Linked DNA regions of Homo sapiens: region 1 is linked to region 2. Evidence: fine-mapped expression QTL. Tissue or cell type: atrial appendage. Region 2 holds a variant in brackets; the other region holds the start of a gene. All regions are shown on one strand. Distances are from middle to middle.

Region 1 (10,887 bases), 77 kb before region 2:
CGTAACAATTAACAATTTAAATGTACTGCCTACACAGTAAAGAATAACATCCCCTAATCCAAAAAGTGCTTATTTTGTTTAGGACTAGATTAAATAACAGGAACTTGAAAGGTTCTTCGTTTGTATTAATTCCTCTAATTAGGAAAGAGTAATAGGATACTAAAGTCACATAAAACAAAGGATAATGAAAACAAATGCAAAGAGTTCAAAGACAGCCATCTAATACATGCCATGTCAAATAGTTTTTAAAAAAAGGCCACTATAAATTCACAGCTGTGAATTCTAGTTTGAACATTTTAATCCACAGCTAACCATGAAATTGGGTCTTCAATTTGATGTTTTGTCTCAATTAACAACTGGCAAAGAAGTTGGTAATGTATTTGAACTAAGACATTATTCTCTACCCTGGAAATCTATCATGTTCAAGATCTAATTTCAAGAGGAACCACTTCATATGTGTTGGATGATGAGAAGCCCCCAGTTGGGATGCAGCAATTTTTTGGATTTTCTGAGACAGGCTGTCACCCAGGCTGGAGTGCAGTGGCACAATCTTGGCTCACTGCAACCTCCGCCTCCTGGGCTTGTATAATCCTCCCACCTCAGCCTCCTGAGTAGCTGGGACCACAGGTGCATGCCACCATGCCTGGCTAATTTTTAAATTTTTTGCAGAGACAAGGTTTCACTATGTTGCCCAGGCTAGTCTTGAACTCCCGGGCTCAAGCAATCCTCCCACCTCAGTCTCCTAAAGTGCTGGGATTACAGGTGTGAGCCACTGTGCCCTGCCAGGGATGGAGCATCTTTGCAGTATTTCATTACTCTCAGCTCATGGCAGAGTGTTCAAAAGGCAGGGGTAGGGTAAGGGCTGAATTATGGAGCAGCAGGTCCAGTAAGTAGAAAGGCCACTTCCCACTTAGCCTGAATACATTCTATGAAGTGGAAGAGGAAAGACCTGAGGGATGTCATGGCAACCACTTATGTTAGCAGGAGCATGCCCAAAGCTCAGAGACCAGGAGTGCAGGATAGGCCACTCAGGGACCAGGGGTGCAGGGCAGCAACTCAAAGCCCTAAGTGCCACCAGGTCAGGGCAGAGTAGGCTCTTGGCAAATAACAGTAAATATCAGTTCCTAATGTCAGTTAATGACCCCTGACCTGGCAGATTCCATTTCAGCACCCTACCTTGTCCTCTGTGAAGGAGGCCACCCAAACTGTCTCACTGGTTCTAGGTACACAAAACCCAAATCTGAGAAATCCACTAGATTGGCAGGTAGGATGGAATAATTTATTATTATTATTATTTTAAAGACAAGGTCTTGCTCTGTTGCTCAGGCTGGAGTGCAGTGGTACAATCATAGATTACTGCAGCCAAAAACTCTTGGCTTCAAGCGATCCTCCTGCCTGGGCCTCTGAAGTACTGGGATTACAGGTGTGAGCCACTGTGCCCAGCCTGGAGTGATTTAAAAACTGTTTTCAAATCAACATTTTGAAATAGTACTGTATTTTAGCTTTCGGAATTCTAAACTTTGCTAGATCCGACAAGCTCAGTTTTCTTGAAGGCTGTAATCACAAGTAACAGCTAAGATAGGAAACACAAGAGTATATTTAGACAAACTTTGGGACTGTCAACTTACGTTTGTATCCTCCAGCAATGCCAGACTGTGTCAGACATCTCTGCAATTCATCAGCATCTATCTGCCCATCCTTTTGAAAAAAAATTAGAGGAATCATAATAGTGATTTGTACTTTCAAGTTGTTTACCTTCAGCATTCAATGAAGCAATAACAACAAAGAAAATCAGTATCTTTTTTTTATTTAAAAGGAATGCCTTTTTTTTATTAAAAGGAATGCCTTCCAAAAGTGGGCATTCTTTTCCTTAACCCACTTCCAAAAGTAATTTAATGATGAAAGAAAGAGTCTGTCTTGGCAACTACTCTTCTCTCAATCTGAGCTAGCAAACTGCTACAGCTAAACATTTTAAAATATTTTTTTTTGATGGGGGTGGAGAGAGCAAGGTACAAAGCAGACATCAATAAATAGAAGGCTTGGTTCAAACAGAAAAAGGCCTCCTTGGTCACTTTTTCTTATGATATAGTGAATCATTTTTTTCAGAGCACAAATACATCTGGAAGATTCACATTAGGTTCCCAGTGCCCATTCACTGGCTGAACTGGGAAAGAACTAGATATATGTGATTTTTAGGGACTTTAAAATAAAATACCTAAATCTTCAAGTCACTGGGTATTATAAGTTATAAATGAGGAGCAAGATCAGCAATTTGAAAGACAATGGGTATGCTGAATACAGGCCAGGGCTGCTGAAAGCTAAGCAGGTGGAGTCACTTACATGCTGGAGGCACTGGCAATCTAAGAATGCTAGTCTTGAGGTTTGCCATGCCTTGTGGTTTCAAAGATACAGATCATTAACAGTTTAAGTAGATACTTAAGGGGAAGGTCTTCCAGTTTTAGACTATATTTTCCATTCAATTTCTTAAGCTGTATTTCTTAGAGTACTACCTTAAAAGTGGTCTTAGGTTTTTTATCCCATAATATTCTACAGTTTTCACATTAAGATTTTGCTATTTCTAGCTTTTGGTCAAAACAAAACTAGGTTGAATTCATAAGAACAAACATCTCCTCTGGACGTGTCTGGGTTATACCAACAGTATATTTACTGCACACAGTGACCTCATGAACTAGGGAAGTGTCCTCTCTCAATGTAAGATAGCACCTGTCAATGTAAGATAGCACCTGTCATACAACTCAGAATGCAGACAAGTGAAAGGTCTTGGGGAGCTGACCTTAATTGCTTCTCTGGGTCAACAGGCCAGAACACCTAATAAGGACATGGAGGGGCTGACCTAGTAACAGCATCTGCATCAAAGAGAAACTACACTGTTCACAAGATTAACTTTCTGATACTAAGAAGGGAACAGTAACTTCCTTATTTAGAAGCTGGTGGGTTTTTACCATATTTCCTAAGGGGGTGAATGATTAGCAATCAAGTTCAACCCAAAGAAAGTGCCCATTAGAATCGAGCTATGTAATTACTAATATATGTCTTTAAGTTGTACAAACAAGCGTTTATATTTACCAGATCTTGAATTTTTTCGCTTGAAACCATCCTGGACCCTTTAATTCAACCACAAGTTTGCTTTCGAACTGAACTCACATAAATACGAGTAACACTTTGTCCTCATTTATTCTGAACATTCAGAAATAAAAAACTAAAATAAGAAACAACTTTTTTTTTCTTTTGCAGAAGCAAAGGGACTCAGTACCACAGGAAGTTCGCTTTTCTGTGTCACTATATCAAAAGCTACCACAAATGCAGACAATAACGGCTCTTTAATATTAAAGGGAAAAGCTAACCTGTCCAGCTACAGCAGCAAAGTAACCATACAGCGGATCCTGAGTTTGTCCGGGAAACGCAGGCCCTCCGGGAGCCCCTCCATACTGTGAAACAGGAAACACATACACGTCATTCTGCCGAATCAAGTTTTCTTCTTTCACCACTGAGGGCTTTTGTGCAAGGCCAGACAACTGCCCGCCTGCCCGCCCTTCACAAGGCTCACCTCCCCACCACCGGGCACACTCTGCCAACACTCCACCCCTCTCTTCCATTCACACCCCGTAATTTAAAAACTGGCGACTTAGACCATAAAGAGTTGCTGTGAAAGTGATGTCTACATATGTAAAGCAACTTTTAAAATCCCTATTAACCTGAAGGTTACTGAGGTGAGTGCAAACTAGGTAAGCCAACGAATGGCAGGGCTTCAAATTCTCCTTTTGTTGTTACAGCATTTATGGTATTTTAAGAGCGTTTTATGAACGATGGAAGGCTGGAGTTGGTAACATTCTGAGACGGGTGTAGCCTAGGGAAGAGTAAGGTGTCCGGCCGGGCTGTATCTCGTGGGTGGCGAGGGAACATTGCCTGTCTCGGAAACAGTTCCCAAGACAACGCGCATCCCAGACGCCCGGCGAGGCTGCCTTCCTACAGGTCTTTTACTTCAGCAGGTTTTCCCTTTTTTTCCGTCCCCCTTCTCACTCGTTTTTTGTTTGTTTGTTTGTTTGTTTGTTTGTTTGTTTTTTAAAGGGAGGAAGGTATATCATTCTAGAATAAAATGACTGTTGTTGCTCTGGGAGGCAACCAAGAAGGCGGGGGTGGGGTGGGGTGGGGGTCAGCCAACACCCAATTAACACGATTTCACGCCGCGTATCCGAGAAGCCGCAGGGTGGGCTTCTAGGGTCCCAATCCACCCTCACCTTGGCCCCGCAGGGCCATCCAGGAGAAGGGACGGGGAAACGTGGGGAGAGGCCGAACCCCAGGGGCCTAGGGCGAGGCCGCGAGCGCAGGGAGAAGCCGAGGGCGGAAGGAGCCCGGGTAGCCGCCCAGCAGCGCCTCACCCCGCTGGCCGCAGCATCTCCAAGGTGGCCTCTTAGCGCCCCGGAGCCGCCTGGGCCGCGATCCCGCGCAGTCAGCACTTACCCCGCCTGGGTAGTACCCGCCGCCGGCGCCAGGATGCCCCGGGTACGCCATGCTGCAGACTGCGCCGCAGCCGCCCTCGCCCTGTGCGCCAGGCCTCTCCGCCCCCTGCCCCGCCCCGCCCTGCCGCTAGGGGGCCGCCCCAGAGCGCACCACGCGGGCGTGGGGGACGCGCTCCGCAGTCGTCTCCAGCTCTTGCCTGTGCGCGCGGCCGTGGCTCCCCTGCCTGCGCGCTTCTTCGTATCTTTGCCATTACGGCGCTAATGCAGTGCACGACTGAAGGTCCAGTGGCGGCCTACGACCTGCGAGGCAATTCACACCAGGGACTTTCCTCCCTCCAAAACTAATGGCACATTCCAACACCAATACACCACCCCAGGAATTCTTTTTTTTTTTTTTTCCTTCGGACTTGGCTATTATCTGGCACATTTCTTATTTTAAACAACTTTATTGGACAGGACGGAGCTATTATAAGCGGAGCGCACCATCGCGAGGCAGGGGCTGGATGCGTTAGGGCAAGCCTTAGGTGCCAGTGGGTGAAGGAGTCTTTGAAAGATGGAAATACGAAAGCGCCCTTGGAAAATAAGAATTAACTTGACGAACTGTGTGCAAGGGAGAGTTTGGCTTGCTGTTGGTTGCAGAGTTCACTGAACGACAACGGCGTATTTCCTTCCTAGGGGACAATTCCTTGCCTGTTTAAGCTGAGCGTGACTTGTGTCCTGAGTAGGACAGAGGGCATTTTCCGGGCAGGACAGACTCACACATATCGTTCTTAGGAAAATGAATTGTTTGAATTATCTGGATGATTCAGACAAAACAATCCATTTCCCTAAAAGTATTCAGCTACTTTTTATATAAGAAAAGTTTAGAACAAACTAATAGTGTACTGGTAAGTATTCAGGAAGATAAGAGATAGGAACTTCTATGTAGGTTATTCTTCTTTACTTCATATATTTTTCTATCTTCCAGTTGAATAGTCCGAAGCAATTCAGGCGTGAGCTTTTTGTTTTGTTTTGTGTAATTTCAATGACAGAAAATTGCTTGCCCTTCACTGTTAAGGACTAGACTTAATGATTTCCTGAATTTTAACGTATTGAGAAACGCATTAATAAGCAAGATTCACAGTATTTGTTGTGGAGGTTGCACAGAAACATTTAAAGGGTCATCAACATTTCACAAATATTGGAGCACCCGCCAATGTGGTACTGTGCTTTTTCGCTGTGGTGGACGGGCTTCCTCCATTCTAAATTCGTGGGCTATTGTCCTCATTCGGTTCATTGTTTTTCTCTTGTGTGTAACTTCCCTCGCAAGCCCTTTTGAAAACCAAAGTCCGAATTGTGAGAAAAATTCTAATAGTCCCTGTTGTGGCATAGCAAAGACACTGCATGTTGCCTGTTTTGTGTTTGATTCAGGAAGCAGGTTACTGTTTTCAATCATCAAGGTAGCAATCATCAAGGTAGATGAGACATCTAATGAGTCCCCTGGTCTCTCTTTGGAAGCCTGTTTCTTCAGAAAGAGGTAACCGACTATAAAGAGTAGATGTCAGGGCCGAACTCGATGTTGAGTACAAGCTCAAGACTCAAGTTTGAAAGAAGTATAAAGCATATAAAATATTTTTAAGTACTGCAGAATTAGCTTCGTGGATAAACGGCTATACGAATTGGCATATCAGTTGTCCTTAGACATCTTCCCACTGCTTTACTGCTAAAGAATTGAATTTTTTTTTTAATTACACTTTAAGTTTTAGGGTACATGTGAACATTGTGCAGGTTGGTTACATATGTATACATGTGCCATGCTGGTGCGCTGCACCCACTAACTCGTCATCTAGCATTAGGTATATCTCCCAATGCTATCCCTCTCCCCTCCCCCCACCCCACCACAGTCCCTAGAGTGTGATATTCCCCTTCCTGTGTCCATGTGATCTCATCGTTCAGTTCCCACCTATGAGTGAGAATATGCGGTGTTTGGTTTTTTGGTCTTGCGATAGTTTACTGAGAATGATGATTTCCAATTTCATCCATGTCCCTACAAAGGACATGAACTCATCATTTTTTATGGCTGCATAGTATTCCATGGTGTATATGTGCCACATTTTCTTAATCCAGTCTATCATTGTTGGACATTTGGGTTGGTTCCAAGTCTTTGCTATTGTGAATAATGCCGCAATAAACATACGTGTGCATGTGTCTTTATAGCAGCATGATTTATAGTCCTTTGGGTATATACCCAGTAATGGGATGGCGGGTCAAATGGTAATTCTAGTTCTAGATCCCTGAGGAATCGCCACACTGACTTCCACAATGGTTGAACTAGTTTACAGTCCCACCAACAGTGTAAAAGTGTTCCTATTTCTCCACATCCTCTCCAGCACCTGTTGTTTCCTGACTTTTTAATGATTGCCATTCTAACTGGTGTGAGATGGTATCTCATAGTGGTTTTGATTTGCATTTCTCTGATGGCCAGTGATGATGAGCATTTTTTCATGTGTTTTTTGGCTGCATAAATGTCTTCTTTTGAGAAGTGTCTGTTCATGTCCTTCGCCCACTTTTTGATGGGGTTGTTTGTTTTTTTCTTGTAAATTTGTTTGAGTTCACTGTAGATTCTGGATATTAGCCCTCAAACTATACTACAAGGCTACAGTAACCAAAACAGCATGGTACTGGTACCAAAACAGAGATATAGATCAATGGAACAGAACAAAGCCCTCAGAAATAACGCCGCATACCTACAACTATCTGATCTTTGACAAACCTGACAAAAAGAAGAAATGGGGAAAGGATTCCCTATTTAATAAATGGTGCTGGGAAAACAGGCTAGCCATATGTAGGAAGCTAAAACTGGATCCCTTCCTTACACCTTATACAAAAATCAATTCAAGATGGATTAAAGATTTAAACGTTAGACCTAAAACCATAAAAACCCTAGAAGAAAACCTAGGCATTACCATTCAGGACATAGGCATGGGCAAGGACTTCATGTCCAAAACACCAAAAGCAATGGCAACAAAAGACAAAATTGACAAATGGGATCTAATTAAACTAAAGAGCTTCTGCACAGCAAAAGAAACTACCATCAGAGTGAACAGGCAACCTACAAAATGGGAGAAAATTTTCGCTACCTACTCATCTGACAAAGAATTGAATTTTAATGGAGTGTTGCAAATTCAATTCTTACAATTATTGCTAACAAATTGGTCAGCTGCTAATACTTTAGTTTGCTGGAAAAAATTGTGGCAACTTATAATACCATCAGACATATATATAATAATAAAAATATGCCAGATCCTCATCGCATTTTACTTATTTGCTTAATCTTAATAAAAACCCATGGGATAGGTACTATTGTCATTCCTATTATACAGTTTTGAGGAAGGGGAAGGAACAGAACAGAGCTGAGCTATGCTGCCAAGCCATCTGACTCTAGAGTCTGTGCTCTACACCCAGGGGCAGGTAAAGGGCCAGGTAGTAAATATTTTAGGCCTGTGGGCCATACAGTCTCTGTATGAGAGAGTCTACATACATAGTGGTATGTAGACTATGTAGTCATAGTGGTATGGCCAAATACCACTCAACTCTGCTGTGTAGGCCACAAGTATCCATAGACAATAGATAAATGAATGGATGTCGCTGGGTTCCAATGCAACTTTATTTATAGACACTGAAATTTGAATTTCATATGACATGAAATATTATGCTTAATTTTATTTTTCCAACCATTTAAAAATGTAAATATTATTCTGAGCTCTTGGATGTACAGAAATAGGAGGTGGGTCAGATTTGGCCTTTGGGCAGTAGTTTACCAACCACTGCTGGAAGCCCCTCCAGAATGCGGGCTTATGACTCTGGCAGTTTAGCACTTTAGCAAATGATTTGCTGACTGTAAGATAAAGCCTATGGGTAGAATACAGTTATTTGTCAGAACGATTTACTAAGTCCTAAAAAAAAGACTGTAGGAGGGTTGTGACAACAGCATGGGTTAGGGAGAGAACTATGTGAGGTTTATAGATAGGATGCAGGTCATGGTTATTTTGGGAAGTCATTGGAATTACAGAAACCTTTCTGATCATATACTCCAATCCTGCTGTTTACAGAAGAAAAGACCAAGGCTGAGAGATGGCAAATATCTGGCCCCAGCTCTTGAAGAGCAGACCTAGCCAGATGTAGATATTTCACCCTTCCCAATTAAAGCTGTGACAGTAGATAAACATGCTCTCAGAGAGAATCCCATTCTTTTGTGGTACACCTTCCCTAATTATGTTTTCAAGACAAACGGCAGTGTGGACACTTTCTTATTCCTGGAGAAAAGTTAATATAAAGCTCTACATATAGTATCCAACCTGGACTTCTTCGCTCAGATAAGTGGTGAAAGAAATAGTGTCTAACTAAGTAACTGTAGTTATTTCACCATACCTGCAGTTGAATTAACCATAGGTCTTCACTTGTTAGGAAGAAATGAGCAATGACATTTGCCAATTTAAAGTTTCAATTTTTGTTTAGTTCTGATCTGGGTGTGGCACCTCATGATTTAAAGACCTCTGCCTTAGAGAGAAGCTCAGATCTCCAAATGTAAGTGGAAATGAGCATTTGATAACAACATAGGTAACCAATTAATAGTATCTCCACTTTCTTAAGATTGTTGGGAAAGAGTGTGAAGCCTATGATGTTCATTTGGGAATAAAAGCCACCCTTTTTCTTGAACTGTCCGGAGTAAGAGCTCAGTTAATCATGCTATTATGTAATTTTTTCAAGGGATAGAAAACTTCCACTATTGATGTTTTAGTGCTTGCATGTAGAGTTTAACTGGTCCCTGGCATATTGTAGATGGTAATGAATCATCAACCACAGCTCTTCAAACAACTTCTGCTACAATAGAAATGTTTGATAACTATGCCACACAATAACTAATCACATATGGCTATTGAGCCTGTGAAATGAGGAACTAAAATTTTAATTTAGTTTAATTTAAAATGGAATAGCTGTGTGGCTAGTGCTACCCTCTTGAACAGCACAGGGACCCTTTCATCTGTGTTGGCTTCCTCCTCCCTGGAACTCAGAGAAAGCAAACTCATTCTACTTGCCTGGAATAGGCATGATAAGCAAGATAAATCAGTTATTAACAAAACACAGCAAGGGCAGTCATCAGCTCTGTGACAAACGTTCCCATGTTCCTGTTCCTACAGAATAGATTCTCACTGACCTGTTCCTTCCCTTAATGAAGCTCTGAGCTGGAGTTGATGATCAGGATTAACCAGGAAGCTGATGTTGGAGGAATTTATTATGGCTAAATATATATGCCTATATACATATATGTGTATGTATGTATATCATTGTACATATGTAAATATATGTGTGTATTTTTACAAACACACACACACTTTATATATATACTTTCTTATCATTAGGGCTGTCAAAAATGACCTTCCAAAGATGAGTTCCCCATCACTAGAAGTGATCAAGAAGAGGCTGTCAGTGATGCTAAAGGGCAGTTTTGTACTTTGAGTAGGGGCCTGGATGAGTTAATGCTCTATGGACTACAAAGTATTTTCTGATGGCCTACTTAAACTTTACCCAGCCATGCCAGTTAGATTATTTCTACTTTACAAGATGAGGAAACTGAGACTCTGACTTGCTGAAGGTTACCAGACTAATAGCAATTCCAGTATTAATTGCTTATCTTGTCACTTCAGATCTTTTCTCAACCTCACGCTATTCTCTCAGGACTCTTCCTTTTAAGATTATGCAATTTCTATTGGATCAAGAATTTGGAGACATTGTTTTTTCTTTTCCTGAACAGAATGTGTTTCAGAAATCAGAATATTAAATTTAAAGCAATTGTCTAAAATAATGTACATCTAGGTAATGCTATTACTATCAATGATAAGAGTTCATTTTAGTGCAGATAATTATTTTTTGATGAACAAGATGTAAATATGCATGGCTAAAGGGGTAGCTAAAGGGAGGTCAAGAAATGAATGCAAGAACTGGCTGTAATTAGTTTTTGTCTGAGGCTTGTACTGATTATCAAGTCTCTACATCTTTTACTTGTGACCATTACCATGTCTGGGACCACATAGAAAGCAGAATATTGAATACTGGACCTGTATGCTCAGGTAGAAAATCACCTGTGTTCAGCACCAGTGTTCTCTTAGGATGACTCTTCCTAAGAACATTGGACTAGTATATTATGGGGGTGTTAATTCTAAAAGCTAATTTTTGCAACCTAGGTCTATTTTTTCATAAAGGTCACTTTATGACTGGTTCTCAGGCAAGCCCTCGAAAGTTCTTTAAAGCCTTCATTGTTCTCCTAAAGAGAAGCAGTCCTGGAGCCGGGGTAGAGCAGGGTAGGAACCCAAGAGCACCTAGGGCTTGGTTATTGCCCATCCCCATTCGCATCTCAGTCCCTTTA
Region 2 (10,887 bases):
CCATGTCATTTTATCTCATGTGTATGCTCATGTACCCATCACTTCAATCAGGTTAGAGACTAGACCATCCCTCATGCTGCCCTCTGAACTACCAACCCTAACCCGTGGAGGTCATTAATCTGTTCTTTATCACTACAATTTGGTCATTTTGAGAATGAATAAAATCACACAGTAATGCAAGCCTTTTGAGACTAGCATTTTTTCACTCAGCATAACATACTTAAGATCCATCAATAATTCTTCCATTTTATTGCCGAGCGGTATTCTACAGTATAGATATACTAAAGTTTAACTCTTCATCTAAGGTAGGACATTTTGGTTGTTTCCAGTTTTGGCTATTACAAATAAAGCTTCTATGAGTATTCACCTACAGGTTTTTGTGTGAAAATAAGTTTTCATTTCTCTGCGATAAAGACCCCGGGATACAAATTCTGGGTCATATGGTGTTTGTTTAGCATTCTAAGACTTGGCTATACTGACTTCGAATGTGTACTAATTTACCCCTTACCAGGTATTTATGAGTCATGATTTTTTATTTTAGCCATTCTGATATTTCATTGTGGTTTAAATTTGCATTTGTTTAATGGTTAATTATGTTGCATATCTCTTAATGTGTTTATTTGCTCTCTGTGTGTCCTCTTTGGTGAGAAGTCTCTTCATGTATTTTGCTTATTTTCTAATTGGACTGTTTGGGTTTATTTACTGTTGAGTTTGACAATCTTTATATATTCTACATATGAGTCTTTTGTCAGATATGTGATTTGCAAGCATTTTCTGCCAGCCTATAGCTTGTTTTTTTCATGTCTTAACACATCCGAAGTCATAAAACAAACATTTTTTAATTTGATGATGTCCAATTTATTTAATTTTTTTTCTTTCATGGATTGCGCTTTCAGTATCTTACCCAAAAACTCTTCACAAAGCCCTAGGTCCTGAATGTTTTCTTCTAAAAGTTTTACTTATAAGTCTATGATCCATTTTAAGTAATTTTCATACATAGTGTAAGGTTTAGGACAAGGTTTATTTTTTGACCTATGAATACATAACTACTCTTCTACCATTTGTTGAAAAGACTATCCTTATTTTTTGCTGAATTGCTTTCACATTTTTGTCAAACATCAGTTATACATAGAGGTGTGGGTCTATTTCTGCATTCTCTATTCTGTTCCATTGATCTATGTGTCTATCCCTCTGCCAATACCAACAATGTTGATGGCTGTAGCTTTATAATAAGTCTTAAAATTGGGTACAGTGATTCTTCCCACTATGTTTTTTTTTGAAAACTATTATAGCTACTCTAGTTCCTTTTCAGTCCTATAAATTTTAGAATAATCTTGTCATAAATTTTAAAAAATGTACTTTAAATGCTTAAATTAAAAAAAATGCTTAAAAATATTCCAAAACTTCAATGCAAAGCAGTTCATGTTTTAGGAGAAAAATATAGATGACTGTGCTAAAAAATTAATTCATACAAAAGCATAATAGCAGTGTGTAGATACAGGTTAAGCATCCCTAACCCAAAAATATAAAATCAGAAATGCTCTAAAATCCAAAACTTTCAGACATGATACCACCATTGGATAATTCCACACCTGACTTTATGTGACGGGTTGCAGTCAAAAGCAGTCAAAACTCTGTTTTATGCACAAACCTATTAAACGGTTTGTATAAAATTACCTTTAGGTTATGTGTATAAGGTGTATATGAAACATAAATTTTGTCTTTAGACTTGGGTCTCATTCTCAAGATATCTCATTATGTATATGCAAGTAACTTAAAATGAAAAAAAAAAATCTGAAATCCAAAACATTTCTGGTCCCAAGCATTTCGGTTGTGGGATACTCAACCTGTATCTAATAAATGGGCACAAGTTTAAAGTTATATGATGGACTATATGCATAGATCTCATTTAAATAATAAGTAAAAATCAATTTTGAAGGTCTTTGTGTGTAAGCAGCCTGGGGCCAAATGGTCCCTTTGTCCCTCCCATTCCCTGGAATAGATCCTGTTTCTCATTTCTTTTAGTAATAAGAACAAAGATCAGCAACCTAACCATATCTCTTCTAAATGGTGGTACTTTCTTTTCTTACACTTGGAAAATGGGCCAATTGTTTCCCCCTGAAATTTCATAAAGATAAAAATATATAAATACCTATGCATATAATGCCATTTGTAGAAAAAGAAAAGGCAAGAAAATCTTCCCTTTTCTTTGGTACAGATAGGCCTGGAAGGGAAAATTAGCCTCCATGAATCCCTCTGATTTCTTTTATTTTTAAAAAACACACAAAGTATACAAATGAAGATAGATTTCTTTATGCAAAGACTCAACCATTGTTTATGCACACCATTAGGAGTCTAACTTGTTTCTTAGCTCACCTAATTTTACAAAAATATACAAATTTAAAATGTAAAAAAGTTTTATATGAAAATTTTGGAGGTAATCATTATAAAAACAAGTGTAAAGACAACAGTCTTTCATCAGTTTCAATCATCACAACATAATTTTTAGTAACAGAGAATAGTATGCTGGGATCCGTCATTAGATAAGTAGGCATAGAAGAACCTATCTACAAAGATTGGTTTGGAAGGGTTCAGAAAGAGAGAGGACATGGTGGTGGTACAGACAGACAGATGTTTTCCTAGCACCCTTTCCTGTCTTTAATCATTGAAGCAACTTCTTAGTTGCTTATGAAAATACAAATAACTCTGCAAAGGTCTACACTAAGGCTTATGAAAATGCAAATACCTCTGCAAAGGGTTACACTAGAAACCAGTGGTTCTCAACCCTGGTGCACATGAGAATCAGGTAGAGAGCCTGAAGGCCCAGACTATTGGAGAGTCTGAATCAACTGGTCTAGGGTAGAGCCTGGGCACTTTTTTAAGCTCCCCCAGGTGATTCAAATGTACAGCCAAGCTTGAGAACCATTGCCTTAAAGCTTTTATCAGCTTTTATGTTAGCTTTCACTTAATGGCCTGCTACTGCGGTTCTTCTTCCTGGTAACACATTAGAATCAGCTGAGGAGCCGTTAAAATGCTAGGGAACCACCTCCTGAGATTCTGAATCAATTGATCTGAGGTAGAGCCCAGGCATCTGTATTTTAAAAGCCAAACTAAAACAAACTTAAGCGATTCTGAAGAGCACCCGTTTTGGAGAACCACTGGAGGTGGAAAAAGGTAAAGTTATCTTTTTCTTTTCCTTTTTATTTTGGAGAGGTGTGGTAGGGAGAGGAAAGATAAGAGGAAGAACAGGATGTTAAGGTTGTAAGGAGCTGCAGAAACTTCACCTTCCTTACAATTTTTTCCTCTAAGTCTTCTTTGGCTGAGAAGCTAGAATTCCTCTCTTTTTGAGAACCGGAGGCAAAATGAGTATGTTTTGAGTGTGCAGGCCTTGGAAAAGAGAGAGTTCAAGGTATGCCAGATTCAAGACTTGTCAAACTGTAGGTAAGGTTTGTTCCATAACTCTCTCAAGGAAACCTTAAAGAGTTGTCTTCCAAGAGCCATGAAATTATAATTTGATCAGATCTACTTATACATCTACTCGGTACCCCTAATAGCAACTATCACATAGTACAGCATAATGTGATAACGTGTTACTAATCAGTTGGGTGAAGCCATTAATAAAATCATTCTGCCTCTTTCTCTTTTTGAGAATTCAGCTTTGAATTCTGAAATAATCATTCATCCAAACATCTGAATTCCTCAGACATTATCCCCTCTGGACACATACAACCACTAGTGTAGCACACAAATCAGAGATCTGGCTTGGCACCTTCCAGAGAGTTGAAATGCAAATAACACCTTCAAACTGTTTAAGATGTGACAGGATTTTTTATTTTAATTTAACAGCTGTAAATAGGAGGGTTTTTTTAAAGTCCTTCCTTCTGTTTTATTATTCTTTCTGAATTTCAACCCAAAAGCCCTTGATGACTTGATAACATATTTGTAATGAGCCGAAATCCATCAATCAAATGTTTCCTTTCATCACAAGGCAAAAGGGCAGGAGGGGGTTCTGCAACTATATCAGTCTTCTTGTGATTCACAGCATTTGTTTTAATATATCCCAGGGACAATTAGAAAGCAAAAAATATTAAAAAAAATAAAAACCTTCCATGAAAACACAAACGTATCCAATTTATTCACTGAGCTATTTCTGTATTTAGTGAGATCAAGGCTCCCTAGGGATAACAAACATTCACATTCAACTACATATTCTTTTATTGGCAGGTAGGTATTACTGTAGCAAAATCAGTAGACCTTGGTTTAAAAAGATCACTGATTACAGTTTATTAAAAAAAAGAATGCCCATAATAAATGGCTTTTTCTAACATTTTTTGGACAGTTCAATCTTTAAGCCATATATAAGTCATTTGAAAATATAAATGTATATTTTAAAATTTAGCTTTGTAGTTAGAAGTAGTGCTGTTTGCAAGGGCAATTTCTTCCTGGTGATATTTATGTATAATTTTCAAATTCTTTCTTTTAATATACACATTAACACCTTCCTTCATCAGATATTTATTGATCACCTATTGTGTACCACATGCTATTCTATAGGTTGAGGGTAAAGAGGTGAAGAATACAGATCTCATATAGAGTTTGGAAATGTTATCTCCTTACAAAGTGCTAAGACTGATCTCTGAATTTGTGTGCTTCAAAAACAGTGTGTGTGTACATTATTATAAGAAAGTTGGACAACACACACATAAAAATAAGATAATTTCAGATGGTAGTAAGTGTTCACAAGAATTCAGAGCAGAGTGATGGAATAGAAAATGTTGGGAGGAGACAGAGAGGGAGACTAGTTTTGAGAACTGTTTAGCATAAATCTCTCCAAGGAGGTGCCAGTCAAGTGAGGGTTGCCAGATTTAGCAAATAAAAATACATAATGCCGATTAAACTCAAATGTCAGATAAACAATGAATACTTTTTTAGTGTAAGTATATCCCCTGCAATATTTGGGACACATTTGTACTAAAAACACAAATGTGTTTTAATATGAAATTCAAGTTTGAGTGGGCATCATGTATTTTATCTGGCAACCTTAAATCAAGCTGAGACCTGACAGGCAAGAAGGAGTTTGCAGGTGAGTTTTCCAGGCAGGGGGGAAAGTGAGTGCATATGTATGAACTAACTGTGGTAGCAAAGGGCAACCCTTACAAAAATACAGCTGCTCCTCAATTTATGATGGGGTTACATCCCAATAAGCTCATAATAAGTTGAAAACATTGTGACAGAAATGCAGTTTATACACCTAAACTGCCCACATTTTAGCTTGGCCAAGCCTACCTTAAATATGTTCAGAATACTTAATTAGCTTACAGTTGGGCAAAATCATCTAACATGAAGCCTATTTTATAAGAAAGTGTTGATTATCTCATGTAATTTATTGAATACTGTATTGAAAGTGAAAAACAGAATGTTTGCTTGGGTACTCAAAGTATGGTTTCTCCTGAGTGCATA[G/C]TGCTATCGTGCCATTGTCAAGTAAAAAAATCTTAAGTTGAACCATTAACTTACATAAGTTGGGGACAATCTGCCCTCCATTTAAAATAGCCTAATTTGCAACTAGATTAGTAAAGAAGCTATTACTGACATTTAAAGATAATTTAATAGCTGGGTCATATGAAATGAAAGATTATGAAATGCTTTTATATATTTGTAGCTCTTTTTAACTGAGTGAGAATTGGAGAATGTGGTCAGAGGAACAGGGTCCACTGGAAAGAAACTTCAAGCTTGTGTATTAGTATCCCTTTTTAATTGAATGTCAACTAGAACTAAGATAAACTCTTCTGATATTAAAATATAATTTGATTAGAAATTTAAATTCTAATTACATCAAACTGGTTCTTGTAAACACACACACACACACACACACACACACACACACACACACACACCTTTTACTCCAGGGGGAGAGGAACTTGAGTTAAAGAGAGCAAAAGCTTATCCAAACTAATTTTCAGAACCTACATCTAATTTCTTAGACATGTGCACTTCTCATAAGTTCATATTGCTGCCCATTCTCTTACTATCAGTTTAAGTAAAAATTAGAGCAATCCTGTAGCATGATAAATCATCAACTTGTGATTTCCAAAATAAGTTCTAGTAACTACTTAAGTTACTAATTGCTATAGATTAATATAAATATATCATTTAAAGCTCTTTTTCTACATAAAGAAACTACTTCAGGTTGGTTGCTAAAAAACTGATTATTTCAATTGTTTTGTGAGAAAATGTTTTGTATCCCATAGCAACTGAATTTGCTGATTATTTTTTATGCTAGACAATAGAATGGCACACAAAAACACAGTAATCTTAACTTGCACAGTTTCATCAAGTCACAAGAGCATAATTAAAGGCAATCTTTACATTAATGTTCTATAGAGATGTATCCTACATGAATTGCTAACAACTAGCTATGAACTAACTATGTCATATGCGGCAACTAAAGTGATTGTTAGTAATATTTTACTAACACTATAAATTATGAGGAAAGTGAGGTAATAGAGATCTATGTTAACTATTTTAATTGTATTTTAGGATAAACTTATTTATCTTAAATTTAGGTTCTTTGTCGAAATTCTAGTTCAATTAAAAATCTCATTAATACATGTTGCCACATTTCGATCTCAGCAGTATCTGTCAAGATAAATTAAGATTGTTTTATAATTCTCTGGCCAAGAATTTCATCAGGTAGGTTCATTATCTGCTGTCCAAGCTGGTTAGTTTATCTGATTAAAGCCCAGGACTCATGACAACAAGGTCAGGGATTCAGTCGTGTCTCTGGGTTAATTTACCTTGACTTCCATTTACATTTTAAATCCTGAACAACTTCTTACAAATCTGTGGGTCACCAAAGATTAGGCATCTGGTCATGACCAGGACCAGTGGATTGCCACTATCAGAAAAACAGCTCTATCTCATGGCTTTGGTGGCATTTGGCTTGTACATACTACATAAGCATTTGCTTAATCTGATGATCTGCATCAACTCCCCTAATATTTAGTGTTCATTAGTGGGTTTTGCTTTTCTAGGTCTATTGTGGTCAGAGATATTTGGGAAGTAATTTGTAATTTCAATTTTGAATTAACTTTGTTCAAATAAAATTTCTTAAGAATGGGCATTTATCTTTAGATTAAGGCCAATAGGAATTATCTAAATATCAATAACTGCCAGTTAGTTTGGAGAAAGCAGTTTTGTTGTGGATCTTGACCCCACCCCCATTCCTTGCTGTTGGAGGAACTCCATTCTGCTTTAAGGTATCTCCCAACCATTTTTAGAAATCTCTGGGGGCAGTCCACAATGCTTATGAATATAGCCTACTTCATCTTCTTTTGGGTAACTTCTAATACGGCACTCAGAGGCAAGGACTCCCCATGGCCCCAGTGCCTCTGATGTTTGCTGAGACCCATCAGATGGAGCTGCTGGCTATAATCTGGCCTTGCAGCTGCTCCATTTCTGACCTCAGGGGAGAAAGTGCTCTTGAAATTCCTTCTTCTAACCTTTTGTAATATTCTGATATACAAGCTTGAGAGCATTGCTAGTTGATAAATATTTTAAAATAAACAGCTCTTTCTTTTTAGTTTCAAGGTTTTTATTTTATTTTAGTTTTTGAGACATACTCTTGCTCTGTCGCCGAAGCTGGAGTGCAGCGGTGTGATCTCAGCTCACTGCAACCTCTGCTTCTTGGGTTCAAGTGATTTTCATGCCTCAGCTTCCTGAGTAGCTGGGATCACAGGTGCGTGCCACCATGTCCAGCTCATTTTTTTTTGTATTTTTAGTAGAGACTGGGTTTCACCATGTTGGCCAGGCTGGTTTCAAACTCCTGGCCTCAAGTAATCAGCCCCTCCCTCCACATCCCCTATGCCACTTTGCCCACCTTTGGCCTCCCAAAGCGCTAGAATTACAGGTATGAGCCACTGTGCCTGGCCTAGTTTTCAGGTTTTTAATCTCAGCCTTTCAGTGGTGTGGCTGTGGCCAGCTTGCCAGCTGGGAGCTTGAAATCAGTCACAGTAGGAGTTTTTACCTTATGACAATCACCAAGTGCTACAAATCAGGACTTTTTTTTTCCTTAGAGAGGCATTTACCAACATACCACTGGTTCTTCCCCTGCTTCTTTTACCCTTTTCCCCAAGACTCTGGAATGTGACCACAAAAATGGGAAAATATTTGGGCTGATGGGATAATACCATTTTCCCAGTCCTGGCTGAATCTGAGCATAAATCTATTTTCTTATGGCCTCACCTTCTTACAAGGCTCCTAAGTTCTTTAGGAAAACAGAATCCTTGTGGTTTCCCTACCCCAACAAAGGTTCCAGACCCTCTCTACCTCACACATGGCATCAACACAATTTTAGCTATAAACCTGATAGCTTTAGACTCTTGGTTCCCTAAGGGAGATAGATACAGGGACCCATCTGTGTACCACCATCCCCAGCACGTATTTTAAAGTTATTCAGACACACCTCAGAACTAGGGTAAGTGCAGTTTAGGATCTCAACTATGAAAACCAGAGGCAACTGGCACACTTTCATTATTAACTGCAATGAACCATTTACCAACCAGCTAATTGCTTTCTCCTCAATCTCCTCCCATTTCTTGTGCCACTTATGTCAGGGAATTGAATAGGATGAATAAATCACTTTAGTACTTTGGTACTGGAGAAGAGCATATCATTCTTAGACAGGGTCTTGCTCTGTCACCCAGGCAGGAGTGCAGTGGCATGATCATGGCTCATGCAGCCTTGACCTCCCAGGCTCAAGAGATCTTCCCACTTCCGCCTCCCAAGTAGCTGAGACTACATGTATGCACTACTACACCTAGCTAACGTTTTAATTTTTATTTTTTGTAGAGATGGGGTCTTACCATCGCCCAGGCTAGTCTTGAACTCCTGGTCTCAAGTGATTCTCCTACCTCAGCCTCCTAAAGTGCTGGGATTATAGGTGTGAACCACTGCACCTGGCCCCATATCACTTTTTTTTTTTCCAGACAGCTGGAGTGCGGTGGTGCCATCCTCTACCTCCTGGGTTCAAATTATTCTCCCACCTCAGCCTCCTGGGTTCAAACTATTCTCCCACCTCAGCCTCCCAGGTAGCAGGGACTACAGGTGTGCACCACCACGCCCAGCTAATTTTTGTATTTTTGGTAGAGATGTGGTTTCACCATGTTGGCCAGGCTCATCTTGAACTCCTGAGCTCAGGCAATCCGCCCGCCTCAGCCTCCCACAGTGCTGGGATTACAGGCGTGAGCCGCCGTGTTTGGCCCCATATCACTCTTTAAAACGAATTAGAATACAAAATATTACAAATAAATTTGTAACTACAATACAGTATAGCAACATAATAGGGACACTAAATCAGGAAATACCAAGGTTCCTGCAGTTTCTTCTACTTTAAATAAAATGTTATAATAATTTCAACTATTCACTTTATATGTGCTATACAGTTCAAAGCAACCTCATGCCTCTCCCTGAATGGTAGGAAGTTAAAATGTGGACTTTGCCACTGCACTTTGACCCTGTTAACTAATATTGTGCAGGCAGCATCCATACTCATTATGTACTATGTCCATAAGGTAAGTATCTTCCAAAAATAAAAATCAGTGTTATTAGCAATGCCTTGCTTTCAACAGAGATTTATTGAATAGCCACACTAAGAGGGATAAAGTGAGAAACGAGATGGACCCTGTCCTCAAGGAGCTTTGGTCTTGGGAAAGATGAAGCATATAATCAAATTGTTGCAATGCATAGTGTAATGGCCAGAGCAGACGAATGTGTAGAGAGGATGGGCGCCTACAGGCTAGGAGGGACTTGAATCTGCCAGGAAGCGGAACAAGTAAGTTTTCCAAAGTCTGTGCAAAAGTTTTGCAGCCACAATTTAACTTGAGCTCAAAACTGTTTTCACACCCTGTAAAAAGAGCAGGTATAGATGAAAGATGAACAATCAGCGATGACCATTAATTATCCCTTCCTATTTCTACGCTCCACAGTGCTGGTGCCATCAGCTCTCTGAGCCCTGGCTCTGTTCTTAATGCATTTTTTTTTCCTTAATATTGGGTGCTGGCCAGGTGCGGTCACTCACGCCTGTAATCCCAGCACTTCGGGAGGCCAAGACAGGCAGATCACTTGAGGTCAGGAGTTGAAGACCAGCCTGGCAAAAATGGCGAAACCCCATCTCTACTAAAAATGCAAAAATTAGGTAGGCTTGGTGGTGCATGCCTTTAATTCTAGCTACTCAGGAGGCTGAGGCAGGAGAATTGCTTGAGCCCAGGAGATGGAGGTTGCAGTGAGCTGACATCGCGCTACTGTACTCCAGCCTGAGTGAAGGAGTGAGACTGTCTCAAAAAAAAAAAAAAAAAAAAAAAATTGGGTGCTGAGGCCAAACTGACTAGCTTGTATTCTACTAATAATCTTCCAAGAGCTGTGCTATATAGTTTTATTTTCTTTTAGCCTTCTTTTTATTTAGAATTATAGTTCCTAACTTTTCAAAATTACTCTTTGCAAACATTTTCCTTCCTTTTAAGATGAAAAGGGAACTTTATCCTGATGTTAGGATTGATCATATAATCTGCATTAAAAAAAAAAAAAAAAAAAAAAAAACTCCAACCGGGCGCGGTGGCTCACACCTGTAGTCCTAGCACTTTGGTAGGCCAAGGCGGATGGATCACCTGAGGACCGGAGTTCCAGACAAGCCTGGCCAACACGGCGAAACCCCTTCTCTACTAAACATAAAAAAATTAGCTGGGCATTGTGGTGGGCACTTATAATCCCAGCTACTCAGGAGGCTGAGGCAGGAGAACTGCTTGAACCCAAGGAGCAGAGGTTGCAGTGAGGCAAGATCCTGCCACTGCACTCCAGCCTGGGTGACAGAGCGAGACTCAGTCTCAAAAAAAA

Which allele goes with the higher level. Positions count from the first base shown, and alleles are read on the strand shown. Sizes are in standard deviations (SD) of each study's normalised expression.
With allele G in place of C in region 2, the expression in atrial appendage of the gene that starts at base 4,545 in region 1 is lower (small effect, 0.22 SD a copy in GTEx).

Evidence for each region.
Region 1: SRI starts here. The variant in region 2 is fine-mapped to the expression of SRI in atrial appendage (GTEx, PIP 0.95).

What each region holds. Positions count from the first base shown.
Region 1 is chr7:88,215,494-88,226,380 of GRCh38, forward strand. It overlaps SRI (sorcin), which reads right to left and starts at 4,545. Exons shown (of 8, transcript NM_003130.4): 1 at 4,483-4,545; 2 at 3,366-3,449; 3 at 1,629-1,698. The coding sequence starts at 4,533. SRI-AS1 (SRI antisense RNA 1) reads left to right here and starts at 1,167. Exons shown (of 3, transcript NR_120517.1): 1 at 1,167-1,264; 2 at 3,256-3,731. LOC124901691 (a long non-coding RNA gene) reads right to left here and starts at 1,091. Exons shown (of 2, transcript XR_007060419.1): 1 at 950-1,091. RefSeq lists silencers at 3,531-3,620, 4,268-4,767.
Region 2 is chr7:88,292,617-88,303,503 of GRCh38, forward strand. All of the region lies in intron 1 of STEAP4 (STEAP4 metalloreductase), which reads right to left. All of the region lies in intron 1 of LOC124901692 (a long non-coding RNA gene), which reads left to right. Among named protein-coding and RNA genes, the nearest start is that of STEAP4, 8.8 kb to the right of the region's middle. The variant G/C (reference allele first, on the strand shown) is at 5,461.